3 separate regions of the Homo sapiens genome follow, and all the other regions are linked to region 1. The links come from fine-mapping of genetic effects on gene expression. A gene starts in region 1. Each other region holds a variant in brackets. All regions are shown on one strand. Distances are from middle to middle.

Region 1 (5,833 bases):
TACTGTAGCCAAGGTGCAAGATCCTTCTTAAAGGGAACACAGATTCTCTTTCAACCAAGGGACTATGGGTCTGTGAATTGACTTAGGTCTGAGAACTGAGAGACTGTGACTATCCACTGTGGTGACTCAAGTCAGGTTTTGGCTACCTGACTTAGATCTTTTTACCTGTTATAAATATCAAGCAATAATCTATTTCAACTGCCTATCTATTTTGTTCTCAGAGCAGCTCCGTAAGCCAAGGCAGTCTGATTTCCTGCTGCCCTTTAAGGTACATGTGCGCCCACCTTGTCTTTGTTGGTTATGTGCTGCCTGGTTTCTGCTATTCTGAGATCGTGTCATCCCCATTGAAATCAGGGAGCCCATCTAGATAGTGGCATCCTCTATAGTCAAGGTTTTCAAGCAAGGCTAGTCTCTTTAGACACTGGAGGGCAACCTACTTCCACTGATAAGAGAAAGAGTTGGCGTGTTTAAGATTGTCGGTTTCATCTGGGTCCAACCCATTTCAAGTATTGAGATTCTATTATTAAAAAATAACACCATTTTACACGAAAAACTCAGAATATGTGTGAATTTAATAGCAGTTATAATTCAGTAACATGAAAATTAAAATTTTGTTTGATTCTCAGCATAATTCTTGTTGCTACAATAAACCAGAGCTTTTGGAATTCTGCAGAATATCTCTGGTTCTCATACCATAACTCTGAGAGTTAAAAAACCTGTGCTTGTCATTTCTCTTTATAACCACTCAAAAGCACGCAAAAGAATCCATCCCACACCAGTCTTTCTAGTCATCTTTATAACCATAGCAGTCAAGTGTAGCAGCCACTTGGGGCCCCAAGGCACAGGCTTCAGTTGGCACTTCATCAGGATCAACCACAGGTAATTGCTTAATTGAGATGCCCAGCATGTCATGAATTACATTTCCCTTTGGCAAGGAGCTAAAGCTCAAAACCTCAATCAAACTGACCTTTAATCCCATCTTTGCAGGTCTATTTCTTGGGACTACTCCCGGGACAGGGAAGGCTTAATAAAAAGAATTGTTAACTATAATAGAGGATTAGAGTAATGAAGGATTCACTAGCAAGAAGAGAACTTTAAAGAATATAGCAACAGCAGCTATAAGGAGCTAACCTTATAACTAACTCTTGGGTTGAGAGACAGAGTGCCCAATGAAGAACCTCCCCAATTCCTCCCAGGGCTAAGATCTAGACGTTTTTGGAGAGGGCATGACCTGGCTCACTGAATGGCAGAGAAGTCACCATTGGGCTACGTCTGCAAAGCTTGTGGAAGATGTGCCCTCTGCAACTTGCTGCAAATGCCTCTAGGGTGCCAGGGAAGTTATTCATGGGGTAGTGTCTCACCTCCTCTACAAAGCTCCTAGAGTTGGGCATGTGAGAGGAAATTGCTAGTTACTGAGCACTATAGGACCTTGGCAGTGGAGAAAGCCAGGTATGCTGCAAAAGCTTATCAATACACAGAAATCAGGAAGCAAAATCCTTTTTTTCTGTAATGTCTCTTCAGCGCCCTCTGCTGATAAAGCTTCAGTCCCAGAAGGCAAACGAAAAACTGTTTAAAAGGCTCAGATCCGTTTTTACAGTGCAGTCAAAAAGGGCGAATTTGGAGCTGAGAGGCAATAAATCAATAACTGGCAGAAGCATCACTTCTCAGATTACACTCATGGATTTCGTAGTCAGATGTTTCTACATGTGCCTGGACGGCCCTTTGTCAGTCTCCTTTCCCCCAGGTTTTAACAGGCTGTCACCAAAGGAGGAAATAGTGAGCCCGAAGAGAATGTGCAAGCCCTCTTCTCTTGCATTTCCTCCAGCCCGTCACCAAGTACTCTTCCAGGCACGCCAGGCCCGAGTGTCCTAGGATAGGAAACCTGAGCAACAAAGGGAAGTGGGGTGTAAGCTCAACCCCTGTTGGACGTGGGGGTGCTGGCGCCTGAACGCCCCCGAAGGCCTCAACTCCCAGAAAGCTGCCTGCCAGGTCACAAGAGCCCTGTGAGGTCTTCCTATCGCCGGGACACTGGGAGGCAGGCGCGGGGCGGGTCCGCCGGGCGACGCGCTGTGATTGGGCGCCGTGGGGCCCGCCCCCTCATCTCGGAGCGTCGGGAGGGGGCGGGGCCAGCCGCCCGCTCGGCTCAGGCGCTGCGGGCGCCTATTGACCCAGCGGCTGCTGCGCCGCCGCTGTCTCCTCCTGCTCGTGGCGGGCGGTGCTGGAGCGCCAAGTGGCGCTGGAGAACCGGCGCTTCCTTTCGCCGCTTCCGCCGCCATCTCCGCGTTTGTGGGGCGGGAAAGAGGGAGGGGGCTAGCGGCTGCAGCTGGAGCGGGCTTCTCTCCGGGGACGGTCCTTTCCTCCCTGCTCTCCTTTTCCTTCTTTCCGCGTTGCCGCCGCCCGCCCCCTGCGCCTCCCCGCGGAGCCTGGGTCCGGGAGGGGGAAGGTAGGGGCGGCGGGGGGCGGGAGAGTCTGGCGAGCGGACGCTAGCTCTGAGGAAACTCATCAATCCGTGAGCCCCGGAGTCCGGGGTGCACATCGGCCCAGCCGCAGCGTCGGCGGCGGCGGCGGCAGCAGCACGAAGGGGCTCAGTCGGGGTAGGCGGGGGCGGTGCCGGTGCCGCGGGGGCGGGCCCGACCGTCCCGCCCAGAAGTTGTAGGGCTTGGCTCCTCGCGATCTTGTTCCTTTCCCCTCCGCTTCTCTGACCTAGCTGCGCGGCCCCGGCCCGGGAGCTGCCGAACCCGCGCCTCCCCTGGGTGAGGAGGACACGCCTGCCCTCGTCGAGAAAACTTTTCCTGCCGACTCAGTTGGGGCGGCGGTGGCAGGAAGTGCGGGCAGCGACCTCTCCTCCGCCTGCCCCGCGCGCCCTGCCGGAGGTCGGCGCTGAGCTTGCGATCAAGTTTGTGGGGGCCCCCCTTCCCAGTTGCCGGCGAGTCTCGCCTCGAGAGGGGCGCCCGACCCCGGGGAGGGCGGCAGGCCAGGGCGAAGGCCAAGGGCGTGTGGTGGCGCCGGAGACTAGGTGCGGAGCAAGGCGGGGACTCGCACCCGCATCCGAGAGCGCGGAGGTCGCGCAGCCCGGGAGAAGGGAGCCTCCGGCGGCTGCTTCCTAGAGTCCACAGTGCGCTGTCTCCTTTGGCTGAGGAGAGTGTCCTGGCCCCGAGTCTATCGAGGAAAATGAAGTTAAGCCGCCAGTTCACCGTGTTCGGCAGTGCGATCTTCTGTGTGGTGATTTTCTCGCTCTACCTGATGCTGGACCGGGGTCACTTAGACTACCCCAGGAACCCGCGCCGCGAGGGCTCCTTCCCTCAGGTAAGCACCTGGGAAGGGGGCGCGGGGCTCCGAGGGGCCAGGCGTGCGGGCCCCTGGTTAGCGGCTGCTACCCAACCTCTTCCTCCCGCCGCGGCCCCACACCCGTGCTGGGCGAGGCCAGGGGCTCTGTAGCTCTCGGACGGCAATGATCACCTCCTGGGAGCCACCTCGCCCGGGCGCGCCAAGTTAACAAAGTGCTGGGCGGCGTGCGGCGGCGGCGGCGGCATCATCCCGCTCAGGAAAGTGGCCATGTTCCGGCATTCGCACCCGGCCTGTTGGGGTGGCTTCGGGCACCTGCTGGCGGGGGAACGGGCGCGGCGTGAGGCACCCCCCGCCAGCCCGGGGCCCGCGTATCCCGGTGGGGTCGTTCTCGGCTCTCACAGGGTTAAGCCGCCCGCACCAGCCCAGAGCCCCTGAGCGCACGGAGTCGCGGAAATGGATCAAACCGAACCCACCTAGGCTTTTTTTTCTTTTTCTTCCCCGCTGCCTCTGAAGAGAGAGAAGTTTATTTCGTGTTGCGGCCCTTTTAGATGTGAATCTCTAGGTTGATTTTAGTGTCGTCATTCTTCAGCTATTACATCTGGTTTGTTTGTGGCAGACAGGGGGAACCGAGTGGGGAAGCGCGTGTTATACTCCGGCCGAAAGCTGTGGGGCGCTCAGTCCTGCGTCCAGTGGTTAAATTGGTAAATGAGTTGGGAAGACGACCCATCCAAAGTCTTATTTAAAGTTACCAAAAATAAGCAAAGCGGACACAGTCTGTTCCCTTTGGAAGGGTATCCACCGCGCGGCATGTGCGAGTTCAGTTTCAAGTTACTTGCCAATATAACCCGTGCACTTCAGAAATTGCGGTGAAACTGGGTATTGTGTAGTGTGTAGTGTGCTCTGTAACGAATGAACCTGAAGAACTCAAACCCTGACAGGGCAATCTAACTATTCCTACTTGACTTACGAGAAAGAGAAGCCTAGACGTGAAGTTGATATATATTTTTTTCTCTTTTGTGATAACTTAAATGACCAAAGAATATCCTTGCCATTTTTTTTGTGTTATGCTAGAGCAAATGGCTTGAATTTAATTGAGATTAAAGTAAAAACTTTACTGGAATTATTGTGAAAGTGAAAAAAGACCCTTTTATGGATGCTGTCATCAATACAGAGCACTCAACATGTTTTGTCGGTGAGAGGTTTTAAAAATCTTGCTGCAGAGAGATGTATCAAAATTTTAAAAGCCTCTGCTTCCCCTAGGTAGTATGACAGAGAAAATAGAAACAAGCACTGAGGGCATCTTTAAATCTTGAGCTCAGAGCTTGTCCAGTGCTTCTTGATGAGGTTGAAGAAAACAGTTGGAAAAAGGTAAGGAGTTTTAAGCTTAGCTTGATATGTTGTGTAATTTTGGGGTTGAAATTACTGTAATTTTTTTCCCTCCAGTAACCTCATTTTCAGATTTTCCTCCATTACAGGAAAATCATAAAAAGTGATATTTTTACTTAAAGTGTTTTCTAAAATAATGTCCTTTGGCTTTGGCTTGATGATCACTTGAAAATGGTTTATGCAAACATCTGGACCTGGGTTTTCTGGCAACCTTGACATTTTCTCTGTTCAGAATCTAAAGACATGAGTGACTCATTCAGTTACTGAGAAATCTTAGGCAAAGCTAATTCCAGTATTGTAATATCTATCCTTAGTCCTCAATGAGAGGCTGAAGTTCTGCTTTAAGCGTAAAGCATTTGATGAAAGGTCAAAGTGGCTGCTGGAGGGGAAGGCTGTTGGTACTCAACTGGGAGGTGGAACATTTTGCATTTAAGATTGCCTTTCTCAGATTTTCTGTACTGGATTTTCACTGCAGAAAGAAGGTATTCTTTAAGTGCTTGGACGGCCACTGAATCCTCAAGCAGATAGACATTCTAAGACCCCTCTGTAAGCTTAACCGTTATGTGTGTGACATTAGCCTTCGTATCTTACAGGGTAAAACTTAAGTGGCGAGGGGACTGAGGCACTGAGGCACGGAGAGATTAATTAGCTTGCCCAAGATCACACAGCTGCAAGCTGAGATTTGAACAGGTAGCCTTTGTAGCCCAGGCTCCCAGCCACTGAGTTGTCTTGCCTCTTAGGAATCTGTTGCCTACTGTTTAGGCTGCCATTTGCTTATGGAAAGATCTGATGTAAAATATAGAGCAGTGATCCTCAACCTTTTTGGTACCAGGGACTGGTTTCCTGGAAGACAGTTTTTCCACAGACAGGGGTGGGGATGGGGGGAGTCGGGGGTTTCGGGGGATGGTTTGGGGATGAAGCTGTTCCACCTCAGATCATCAGGCGTTAGATTCTCATAAGGACCATGCAGCCTAGATCCCTGGCATGCGCAGTTCACAATAAGGTTCGTGCTCCTATGAGAATCTAATGCTGCTGCTGATCTGACAGGAGGTGGAGCTCAGGCGGTAATGCTTGCTGACCTGCTATGCCACTCACCTCCTGCTGTGTGGCCTGGTTCCTAACAGGTCCATGGCCCTGGGGTTGGTTGCCCCCTGTATAG
Region 2 (5,833 bases), 180 kb after region 1:
CATTTATTATTACAGATGTTCAGTTGACCAAGTAGTTCAGTGTTTTCTTTCCTTTTTTTGGAAATTTTAGTTTGAGTTTGTGACTGCAGTGTTCAAGAACTCAGCATCCTTGTTTTCTACAAATACTGATTAAAATAAAATGCTGTAAAATGTGATGTAAAACATTATCATGATCTTCCCATGCCTTTGTTGTACTTGTGCCGAAGTGTTTTGATATTCCTTTGTCTGGAAGAAAATGTTTGCTTTCATTTTGATCATTTTGTTCACCTTGGAATCAACAGGTTTTGATATTTTCTCTTGGAAGATTTTATATCTTTTTGGGAATATGTAATATAAGATCTCTAATAAAAGATAATCTTATCATGTACATGGTCCTCTAGAGTAGTTCTTAATCCTATTTTGTAAACATGTATTAAAACATAATGAAGGGGTAGGGGGAGTAGTGAGGGTCTGTTCTTTGTTCCTTCATGATGGATTGGGTTTTTTTTTTTTTTTTTTTGGACACAGAGTCTCGCTCTGTCACCCAGGCTGGAGTGCAGTGGTGCAATCTCAGCTCACTGCAACCTCCGCCTCCTGGGTCCAAGCGATTCTCTGCCTCAGCCTCCCAAGTGGCTGGGATTACAGGCACCCACCACCACTCCTGGCTAATTTTTGTATTTTTAGTAGAGACAGGGTTTCACCATCTTGGCCAGGCTGGTCTTGAACTCCTGACCTCGTGATCCACCCACCTCAGCCTCCCAAAGTGCTGGGATTACAGGCGTGAGCCACCATGCCTGGCCTGGATTGCTCTTTCTTTAGTCCAGTTGTAGTTAGAAAATGTAGTTGTAGGGTGAAGATTGTAGATGGGTGGTGGTGAGTGTTACATCTGGGTTTGGAGGCACCTTTCAGCTTGAAGTCTAGGGACCTTCCTAGCACCTGTGCCCCACGGGGCCTTCTGAGCCCATTAGGAGGTAGGCAGATTGTGGTCAGATTCCATATATAAGCAGGACAAAGTTGTGGAGGGGAGTAAGCTCAGACATGAAGCTAAGAAGGTCCATGTGAGTTGATCTAGAAGGGAGGGTGGGTTGAAAGAGTCGGATCTGGAGGTACCCTCCAGCCTGCTGGCCCAGACTATTACACAGCTTCAATGACTTTAGAGGAGTCCCCTCAAAGCTGAGAGGCAGGCGCAGGTGGAGAGAATAAATATTCAGGGAGGTACACATGGGTTAGCTAGGTAAACAGTACATGTTAACTAGGAAATCTGCACTTGGTTTGGATAACTTATGCAGTAAAGAAATAATCCACTTAAGGCCGGGTGTGGTGCCTCACGCTTGTAATCCCAGGACTTTGGGAGGCTGAGGCATACAGATCACTTGAGGCCAGGAGTTTGAGACCAGCCTGGCTAACATGGTGAAACCCCATCTCTACTAAACATACAAAAATTAGCCGGGCATGGTGGCGGGCACCTGTAATCCCAGCTGCTTTGGAGGCTGAGGCAGGAGAATTGCTTGAACCCAGGACACGGAGGTTGCAGTGAGCTGAGACTGCGCCACTGCACTTCAGCCTGGGCAATAAGAGTGAAAATCTGTTTCAAAAAATAATAATAACCCAGTTATGTACACACAGGAGTGTAACAATCTGTAGAAGTTAGTAAAAATAGGTGTCATTGAGAAATAATGAGACTTGTCTTTGGCCCCATAAAATTAGATCATTAACATGTTAAAATAATTTGAGTATTAAAATTGGTAAAGAAAATTTAGGTGGGCATATGTTCACAATGCCTTTTACAAACCTTCGAATCAGACTAACAAAGGGCCGTTATGATGTTGAAAAGTTGGATCACAGGGGAGTTGAAAGAATTAGCAAGTACTCTGTTACTACCACATATCAAAGCAGAAAACAAACGTCTTAAGAGGTTGTAAAGGGCGAGATTTCTCCAATACACGCTAGATGAAGCAAAAATAGGAAATTGTAACTATCCAGTAACTAATGTTCAAGGTAGATAACACTCCAAATACAGCTATTGCCAGGTATGAGATGCCATCTAAGCTCTGTCTGGATCTCTCGGTTTTTCTTTCCCCTGAGTTGTCCTCATTCTTGGGCAAGGTCTGCCCATTGAATGGCAAAATGGCTGCCAGCAGGTCCAGACTGGCATCCAGACAGCTCAGAGACCTCAGTGGAAAGGGCACTTTTATCTACACTTTTGTCTAATTTTTTCAGCAAATGTCCTGGGATTAATGTCACTGGCTCTCATCTGGCTCATGTGCTAATGATTATGGCTAGGAGTATAGACTTAGGTTCAACTGAATCACATGGAGAAATGGATGAGAAGTAGTGCCCCACCCCCAACCCAAAGAAAATGGAGTTCTACAACCAGAGAAACAGGAGTTGGATGCTCAGACACTTTGGATACTAGGCAGGCAAAATACAGTAGGAATACATTGCAGAGGAAAACCAAGTGGAGATTGTGGATTTAAAGGAAGCTGAAAGCAACACCCAGTTTGAGTTTCAGGAAAGGTCTCATAGAAGAAGTGGACTTGAGATAATTAATTCTTAGAAGACGAATTTGATTTTAGCAGGTAGAGACAATATGTGTCCCCTGTTAAAAAAAAAAAAAAAAAAAAAAAAAAAAAGCGGGGCGGCGGGGGGAAGACATGATAACAGCAAATCCTAAAAAACTAGAAGTACTATCTTCTGTCTGAAGCAGTGCTGTGCTATAAAGTTTTCTTTGATCATGGAAATGTTGTTTATACTTGCTCTGTCCAGTGTGGTAGCTACTAGCCTCTTTTAGCTCTTAAATATTTGAAATCTGATTAGTGCAACTAAGGAACTGAGTATCTTAATTAAATGTAAATAGCAACACGTGGCTACTGTGTCTAGAGTGCATAGTTAC[A/G]TATAATACATTAGTAGAAAGTACAACTGAAAATACAAGTTAAGGCCACATTTTGCTAGAATCCTGCTAGTCAAAGTGTGGTCCTCATCCCAGAAGCATTGACATTGCCTGAAACGTGTTAGAAATGAAGCCTCACAAGTCCCACCCCGGACCTACTGAATTGGGATCTGCATTTTAACAAGATTCCCCCAAGAGTTCATGTGCTCATTAAAGCTGCCCTAGCACATTTTTCAAGAAGTCAGATCTCTGTCTTGTCAAACTTTTCTAAATAACTCTTAAGTCCCACCCTTACAATCTCTACTGCCTGAAAGCATCCCATAAAATCTGTGCACTTGTCCTAACACCAACCAATTACAAGCTATTTCCGGTCCTGCCCACTTCTAAAAAGTGACATTCAAAAATCTTCCTTGTTAAAAATCTTCTGTTTATTCTGGAAAAACGTAGACACATATTAACTTGGATTAACATAGAAACTTTTGCCATGGCCTAAAAGCCCTACCTGGCCTGGTCCCTGCCCTTCCGCGTATGTGAACTTTATTTTGTGTGTTGCTTAAAAATTTATTTCCTGACTCAAGCCAGTCTTGCCTTCTACCACTCTCCCTCTTACTGACAGTTGTCTAGGATTTTCTGGGTCTCTAGCTCGCCAAGATCATTCCTCTTAAGGGCCTTGCGCTTCCCTCTGCATCAAAGGCTCTGCTCTCAGACCTCCCTATGGCAGGCCTCCTCCTATCCTTCTCATCTTAGTTCAGTTGTCATCTTCTTAAGGCCCTCTTCTCTTGACCAGCCACATTATCAGAGTCCTACCTCCACTCCTTCACTGAGTTATCTCCTTTTTCTTACAGGAAGAGCCAAACCTGAAATTTTGTTGGTTTTACTTCCCCATTAGAATGTAAGCTCCTCTGAGGGCAAGAACTGCAGCCGTCTTGCATTGTATCCCCACGCTTGGAACAGCAGGGGTTCCATAAATATTTGTTCAATAAATGAATAGTGATTACCACCTGTAAATGTAGAGAAACAAGAATTATAATTTCAGAATAAAAGGCTGCAAAATCCCTTACATCTAAATATTTGTTTGTTCATGTTATTTCCCTGCTCAAAACTCTCAGGGAATTCCCATGGCCAGTAAAGAATGTATAAATTTTCAAGCTGTATTCCTAATCCCCTCAAAGGATATGACCTTGTGGAATATACTGAAAGTTATTATCAACCAAAATCTGCCCCTTCACCTTCTTCCTAACAAAACTCTGATTTTACTCTCAAGTATCAGGTAGCCGTGGGTCTCAGAGGGGGAATCGTGGCTGGTCTAAATCGATCATGATAATTTCCTTCTCCAGGCTGGATTATTGATTTAGGAATTGATATGTGATACAATTCTGGCCAATCCAATGACCTATCATGGAAATTAGTTGGGAGCTTCTGGGACAAGCCTCTTTTCTCCCTCTTAAAAAGGGGAGAGCATCTTACTCTCGCATGACCGTGTTCAAAGACAGCATTGGGTAAGTGTTGATGCTGGAGCTGCTGCAGCCATTTTGTAACCCTGCAGGGAAAGCCTGAGGACAGAAGTCAACTGGATAAGTAGAGCCTTGGTCCCTGATGATGCTGAGCTGGTGAATGAACCAATTCCAATTTTCTCGTTGTATGAAGTAATAACTCACTTGAGTATTTGGAGTTTAGTGTTACGTGACAAAGAGCTAAAAGCATTTAAACCAATGCTCTTGGGTGTCACCACTGCCCCAGCACCACGCTCTTACTTATGTAGATGCTTTGCTGAATGAGTACATGTGGACTTGAGTGACTAAGTCCACTCAAGTGCACTTGATTGCAGTCAGTCCCTTGGAACATGGCCTCTTACTTTGTCTCTCCTCCCCTCACCCCTCGCACATTCTGCTCAAAAATTTTAATAAACTGCACTTTATTACACTGCAGTATCTTTTTTCAAACATAAGGTGTGTAGACGGGTTTTTAAAAATGCAAAGTGAACTAAGCATGTGGGTACTAGGGAAATGCCTGAAGATTTTAGAGTTCCTTTAGCATATACTCTGAGAGTGTTTTAATTCAGATGTGGAATTGGGGCTGGCTCCTGTGTGGCAAGATGACCCTTCCAAATGTCAACCAAAAACTGGAGGTAGAGGGGAAGAATAAGTAAAAGGGGCTGAGGTGGGAGCAATGAGTCAGTGGCATCTAGTTTCTTTGAAGTATGTCAAGTAACTCTTTCAAGTACTTTGAGACTTTTTCAAACATCATTGAGAAGCCGTCTGTGAATTTCTAAATCTACAAAGGAGGGAAATTGTAACACTGCTATTTAAAAAGGCCTTTTTTTTTTTTTTTCAAATTTATTGTTTAGATTGACATTGTAGAAGGGCCTATTTTACGGGCTTTACATGTAGACTTGAGTTCTTGGCTCCCAGTTTTTTAAATTCACAGTTTAGCCTTAGGACTCATTTTCTGATCTCAGAGCTAAATGACAGTGCTAGCAAGCAAGATGTACCTATAGGGTCTGGATGTGTGAAACACCAGTAAAATAAAATGGAACCCTCACCGGTTGGCTTTCAAAGCTTGATCTGAAGTTGAGGGTAGGTCTTTGTTTGGTCTGAAACTCCCTCCTAGAACTGGAGACTCAGAGCCTTTGTGTTTCTTGGGATGGATTTTTCAGCCATATGCAGGACTGAAATAATTTCGGACCAGCTATATGGAAGTGAGTGTTCCAGAAAAATCATGTGAGTCATTCATTCACGTATTCATCTTCCTAAATGAATTTTCTAAGTGCAGGTAATAAGATTACTTTGAGGTTAAAATATATTTTCTTAAGTAAAATCTGCAAATTCATCCTTACGGAATTTGTGGGGTACCTTTAAGAGGAGCCTGAAGGCAATCGGTTTTCACTTTTGCATTGTGCCATCAATGAACATTAACTGAATTTATCATTTAAGCAGGGCAGTTGTGCCAGGCTCTGAGAGAGGG
Region 3 (5,833 bases), 34 kb before region 1:
ATTAAGCATTCATTAAGAATTTATTGAATGAATGAATCAGTTTGAGACAGAGGATTTTTTTTACACAGTGTGTGCTAGTTGTTCTGATCTTTGCCAAAATGTCAAAAAGTCAAGGCCTCTTCCCTCCTTGCTCCTATTTGCCTATTTAGAAGTTCCCATGGTTAATTGCCTCCTCGCCTACGACTTCTATCGTTCTTTTATTCCTGGAACTAGAGTTCACTATCCACTGTATTGCCCCCTTGCTCACTCATATCCTATAGGATATATTCTAATAAGGTTAGGAAGAAAGAATAAAGGAATTTTAGCTTTTCAGAAAACCTGGTTTCTAGTCTCAATTCAGCCACATGATATCCTTGTGACCTCAGAGAACACACGGCCTCTCAGATCCACAGTGCCTTCATGTGTAAGTGAAAATGTTGTTACTGCTATGCTCACCTCAGGTGGGCTCCCGAGGATCAAAGGAGTTGGTGCATGTGACAGGGCTTTCTAGACTATAAAGTGCTCCACAAATGTTAGTTCTTGTTAAAAGTAGACAGACGCAATGAAGTATCATTGACTTCAGAAACAACAAGAGTTAGTTGAAATCTACCTCTATGATTGTAAGCAAAACTCACCTTTCCTGAATTTCTGTTTCTTCATCCTCAAAACAGAAATAATACCCACTAACACTCAGGGTTGTCAGAGTTCAGTGACACAATGTCAACAAAGGGCCTGACTAGCACAGTTTCCCAGTAACCTCTTCTCTTCTCTGATTTCCTGGCTCAAATGTCTTTGGGATGATATTATCATCATTGTTATTGGTCCATCCTTAAGTTTCCCCTGTCCTCAAGAAAGTATATTTATATATTATTATTGGTTATGTGCAGGCTCTGGAGTAGGACTATCTGGCTTTAATCCTGGCTCTGCACTTGCTAATGCTGTGTTCTTGAGCAAGTCACTGTGCTTCTCTTGGCCTCTGTTATCTTTTATAGGGAACAGTACCTCCCTGAAGTGACAAACCATCCCAGTTTGTCTGTGACAGGACTTTCAGTGCTGAAATCAGGAAAGTCCTAAGCAAACAGGGATGAGCTGGTGACCCTATTACCTACCTCACAGGTTTTTTAACGAGGATGAAAGGAGTTATAAATGTGAAGTGCTTAGAACAACACCTGCAGTTAGTATTACATCTCACTATTATTTCTCCAGAAACAGTCCTTTGGTCCAAAAATTGAATAGTGGGTTTAAGGGCACAGGGACAAATCACAGCAGAGACAGAGAGGCCTCCTCAGAATCACTCATCCAAGCCCAGGCACAGCCACCTCCCCGGGGCCTGCTGCTGACACTGTTCTGAATCATCCTCTGCTTTCCAGGGTCATACGCAGAGGGGAACCACCGCAACTGCCATCCTTGTCTACAGCTACGACTGTCCTTCTGGTCACTTTGAACCTGCTGCCCGAAGGGAAGAGAGGGGATGAAGAAAAAAAAAAACCTACCTCATTGTTTGATACTTCTTGTGAGGATTGACGAAGCCCTAGAGGGTGAGGGGAGGTGAGGCCAGGGTTGAGCTTCAAATCCCTGACTTCCCTATCCTGCCTCTGAACAGGCTCCAGTGGGGGCCATGAAGTATATTTCTGATGCTGTATATTGCACATGATTGAGGGAACTTGACATATTAATTCTGTGCTTCTCCCTGGGTCTGAAATAGCACTGCCTGGAGTCCAGTCCTGCATCTGCCTCTGCTAGGTAGGTGACCTTGGAATTGTTATTTAACTTCTCAGTTCTTTCATCTGTAACACAGGGAATAGTAAAAACAGGACCAACACCATAAAAGTGTTGTGTTATATGAGATAATTCATGTCAGGAAATTTTCTCAGAGCCTGGCCTAGTATGGCAAACTAGGTGAAACTATAGTAAATTATATATAGGCACTGAGGGGAAATGAATATGTGTTTTGTTGGTATGCCTACATTTCCAAATATTAACATCTTCCTTTTAGATAACTTACATATAAAATTTATTCACTCATTTTTACCATCCCTTTGAAATTAGAATGTTAAAATTATGACAATATTTTTCCAGGCCTAATGTTGAAATGGAAATCCTGTGTGGTTTCTATGCTTTGTTAAGAGTTTGCTCATTGTCAATAACCAATAAGAATTTAAAATCTGAGCTTTCAAAAACTGGTTCCAGAAATTAGGTTTTAGTGTGTCATCAGTTCTACCAGAAAGAATGCCAGGAATAAACATCAGACAATAAAGTTATATCTTGCATGTTTAATTGCTTGCATGTTTACCAAAATCACTCTTTTCATAACAATGAAATTCTTGCTCTTCTCCCTTATGAGTGTTTCCAAAGCAGTTTTAATTGTGACAAGGCAATCAAACAATGTCCTAAGTTCCTCGTTCTATTTTCCCTACCTTAATGCTTTTCTGGGTTTGATTCCTTCATACTCCCTGGTATATTTCCATGCAGATGATCTTATGTTTGGAAGCACAAAACAAGGCAAGGCTTTTGCCTTTAGACATGCTGTTGCTGCCAGAATCCCCTGTGAGCTCCCTTTTCCATTGTTTCCAAGCATAATAACAGGATCACCCAAGGGTCTTTATTAAAGCATTGGGGCCAAGATTGTACCACCAAAAACAGCCCTCTGGACTCACTTTTTTATACAATCTGGCTCCTCTATAACAAGCTTTCAGGTTATGTCGGTGATATGACTCACAAAGGGAAAGAATCTTCTGGCCTCCTGATGCACTGTCTTCCCAGAGTTAACTGATGTGCAGTGTGAATCCAGTGTTTCAGCATACATAACATAAAATGAAAAGGATTATATATAGTGAGCATTGCCAAACTGTACTGTCTGAGTAAGTGCAGGCCAACATACCCTTTAAAGGTAATTTGAACAATTATTTCCATTTCTGCTACATCTCCGAATTTCCCCTATCCTTATAGAATTCAGCCTGCAAATTGAAGGTCAAAGAATGTTCATCTCTGAATTTTATGGCATCTAAGTTTAAAAAACTGCACCCGTTCATCAAACTTTAGACCAAAAATCTATGTGTACTACCCTGTGTAAATTAAACCTCATTTTAGAAATGGGGTGAGGTGTTGATGGGGAGGAATGCCCAAAGATCAAGTAATTCAGAACCTCTTGGTGGTGGGGCCTGGATATGGGTATATTTTCAAAACTCTCCAGGTGACTCTAATACACAATTGGCAGGAATACCCTATGATAAAGGAAAATTGAGAGTGGTTTAGGTTCAGGGTTTGGGCACTCCTGCAATATCTGGACGTATCTATGTCTCCTAGCACTGAACTCCTACCATCAACCTCAATTAGTATGCTACAGAAACTTCAGTAATGCCATTGCCTTTTAAGCTGGTTGCCACCCTTCTGACCCTTTCCATCTAGACCATCTAGAAATTTTATTAGGTATGCTTTTGTGAAGGGTATTTATGAAGTGGCAATGACCCCAGACTCTCTCCTCCTTTCATGGCCAGAATAAACATTGGCCTTACTATAAAAAGAAATGCATGAAAAAACTGAGCTTACTCAGGGAGTAAAATTATTATTTGAATTACAGCAAAACAAGTTTGACTCTTTTTCTTGCCTTGCTTCTCTTTTCGTGTCGCCATGGGAGCACTTCCACATGACACATTTAGACCTAAGAAGGAACTGCCAGTTTCAC[A/G]CAAGAAGGAATGAACATGTTCACCGCAAACCACAGGAAGCATGACTGGCAGCTTCCTGGGCCAACCCAGAAATGTGGCTTGCACCAGGAATGATGGAATAGATTGTATCTCTTCCTTCTGTCATGCTTTTGTACTCTACTGGCAGAATTTTTTTTTGAAAAATGACATTCTTTATCCCATGTCCTTGATCAGAATGTTCCAGTAGAACTGCCGGTTGCAGAAAAAACTGTAATCTTCACAGTTCACCACTAAATGGTCTTACTCCTCGAGCCCAAAGCTACTAGTTCTAGCCTGATTTTCCACTACTTGTCTGCACTATTTCTTGCTGTTCCTCAAGTGAGTTCTTCTCTCTCCCACCCCACTTCTTTCCCTGTGCCTTATTCCTGGAATACCTTCTCTCCAAACCTCACTTCTCTTTCCAGCCTTGGTGTCCCCGACCACATCAGCATAGGCCTTCTCCTTTCCTGAAAGTTTGAGCCTGTATTCCTGCCAGACTGAGCATGAGCTTTGGACTCAGAGAGATCCACTTTAAAATCCTATGACCTTCAGGAAGTTCTTTCATTTTTTATCTTTAAAAAAAGGGGATGATAATAATACTCCTGGGGGTGGATTGCTGTAAGAATTATATGAGATCACATGTGAATGCACTTAGATGATCAATACATATTTGCCTTCCCTTTACCACTCAAATAGCATTGCTTTCTACTGTGGGTTTTTGAAAGCACATCTTACTGTCTCTATCAAAGCCTAGGGTCCTTGAAAGCAAGGGTTTTTTTTTTTTTTAAAAAATAACTTCTTTGAATACTCTCTAACACTAAGAAGAGTGCCTTGCATGTAGAAAGTACTCCACAAATATTTTTGATGGCTGAATAAATAAATAAATGAATTTTCTGGCTCTCTGTTGGATAAAAGATAATGGCATGGAGGGGGATATGATGGAGAGAGCCAGTTTACTTAAAATATAGTGCCTTGACAAAATGTTGTAACAATTAGCATCAATGATAATTATGGAAAACATATTAAATAACTTATCCGGTTATATACTAACCTATTTAGGCTTCCTGGGCAAAAAGAAATGTTGAATGTTCCATACAACAGCAAAGAGGTACTCAGGATCACACAAAAATAAATTCATTGACATTTGATGTTCTTATGCTTACAATGTAAAGAATAAAATGGGTTCTTGTCGTTTCCTTTTTAAAAACTTCCCTTTAATAAACTACCCACGACTGTGTGGTCCAGATGGTTGTTTGGTATATCAGTGTGAAATAATGCTTTACATTCTGTGAGAATAGAGAGGAAGCACACAAAGGGATGCCTTATGGACAATCCAGGCAGAGATAGTGCCTCTCTCGCAATAGGGACACACTTTTTTTTTTTTTTTAAAGATTCTGTATATAGAAAGGTTATTGCTTCATTATGAGGTGAACTGTTTGACAAAGAGATGATGCCAGAGAGTTCATATTCCTTAGGAGGAGACATCTTAGTCCTCTCTCCAGAGAGAAAGAAAAAAGAATTAGATGCGATGTTTTTGAGTATTTACTGCCAATGCTGCTAAAAAAGCACTCATAGTCTTATTAGATGACACAAGAATAGACTCAGTTTTATATTGCAAGGTAGAAATGGGTCATTTATTGATGTTTAAGATCCATCAAGACTTGCAGGTAAATTGAGACTCTTGACAGATGACCTTGAAACAAAACAGTGCAATATGATATTTCTCTACCACCAGAAAAAAAGACATTTTTGACAGCTGAGAAATAGTGGCCAGATCTTGAAGTCATTTTTATCCCTCTTAGAGGAATTTGAAATATAAAACTTAGGACAGAGGTCACATCTTTGCTAGGCTCTTCAAGAGCTTAAAGTAATATCAAGATCCCACAGATAAACAATGACTTCTAATCATTATGTTTTTAAGGAAAAATATGTGATAGGATTTAGTGAGAAGTAAATTTATACCATGTTTTAACAAATGCCTCATCATTTTATATGTTTACTCAGTTGTGCCTACATTTTCATATCTAATACTGATGGAAAAATATAGGTTAATGTAAAAGTAGTTGATGTAAATGCATGATAATAGTACCATGGTTATCTCCTCACCTAGTAGTCTTTTGGGTAATAAGTATGACCAACATTAAACAATGCTACAGTTTATTAGAACCTTC

What was found. PIP is the estimated chance that this variant, and not a neighbour inherited with it, causes the effect.
Region 2: its variant is fine-mapped to the expression of MAN2A1 in whole blood (TOPMed, PIP 0.98).
Region 3: its variant is fine-mapped to the expression of MAN2A1 in monocytes after Pam3CSK4 (Quach 2016, PIP 0.95). The same link has a PIP of 0.9 or more in monocytes and monocytes after LPS.

The regions. Positions count from the first base shown.
Region 1 is chr5:109,687,247-109,693,079 of GRCh38, forward strand. It overlaps MAN2A1 (mannosidase alpha class 2A member 1), which reads left to right and starts at 2,681. Exons shown (of 22, transcript NM_002372.4): 1 at 2,681-3,306. The coding sequence starts at 3,172. It overlaps MAN2A1-DT (MAN2A1 divergent transcript), which reads right to left and starts at 3,853. Exons shown (of 1, transcript NR_186543.1): 1 at 555-3,853. RefSeq lists enhancers at 1,337-2,005, 1,765-1,864 and silencers at 1,975-2,264, 2,275-2,794, 2,825-3,034, 3,445-3,544.
Region 2 is chr5:109,869,259-109,875,091 of GRCh38, forward strand. It overlaps MAN2A1 (mannosidase alpha class 2A member 1), which reads left to right. Exons shown (of 22, transcript NM_002372.4): 22 at 1-367. Among named protein-coding and RNA genes, the nearest start is that of LINC01848, 11 kb to the right of the region's middle. The variant A/G (reference allele first, on the strand shown) is at 2,873.
Region 3 is chr5:109,653,322-109,659,154 of GRCh38, forward strand. No RefSeq gene overlaps it. Among named protein-coding and RNA genes, the nearest start is that of MAN2A1, 34 kb to the right of the region's middle. The variant A/G (reference allele first, on the strand shown) is at 3,665.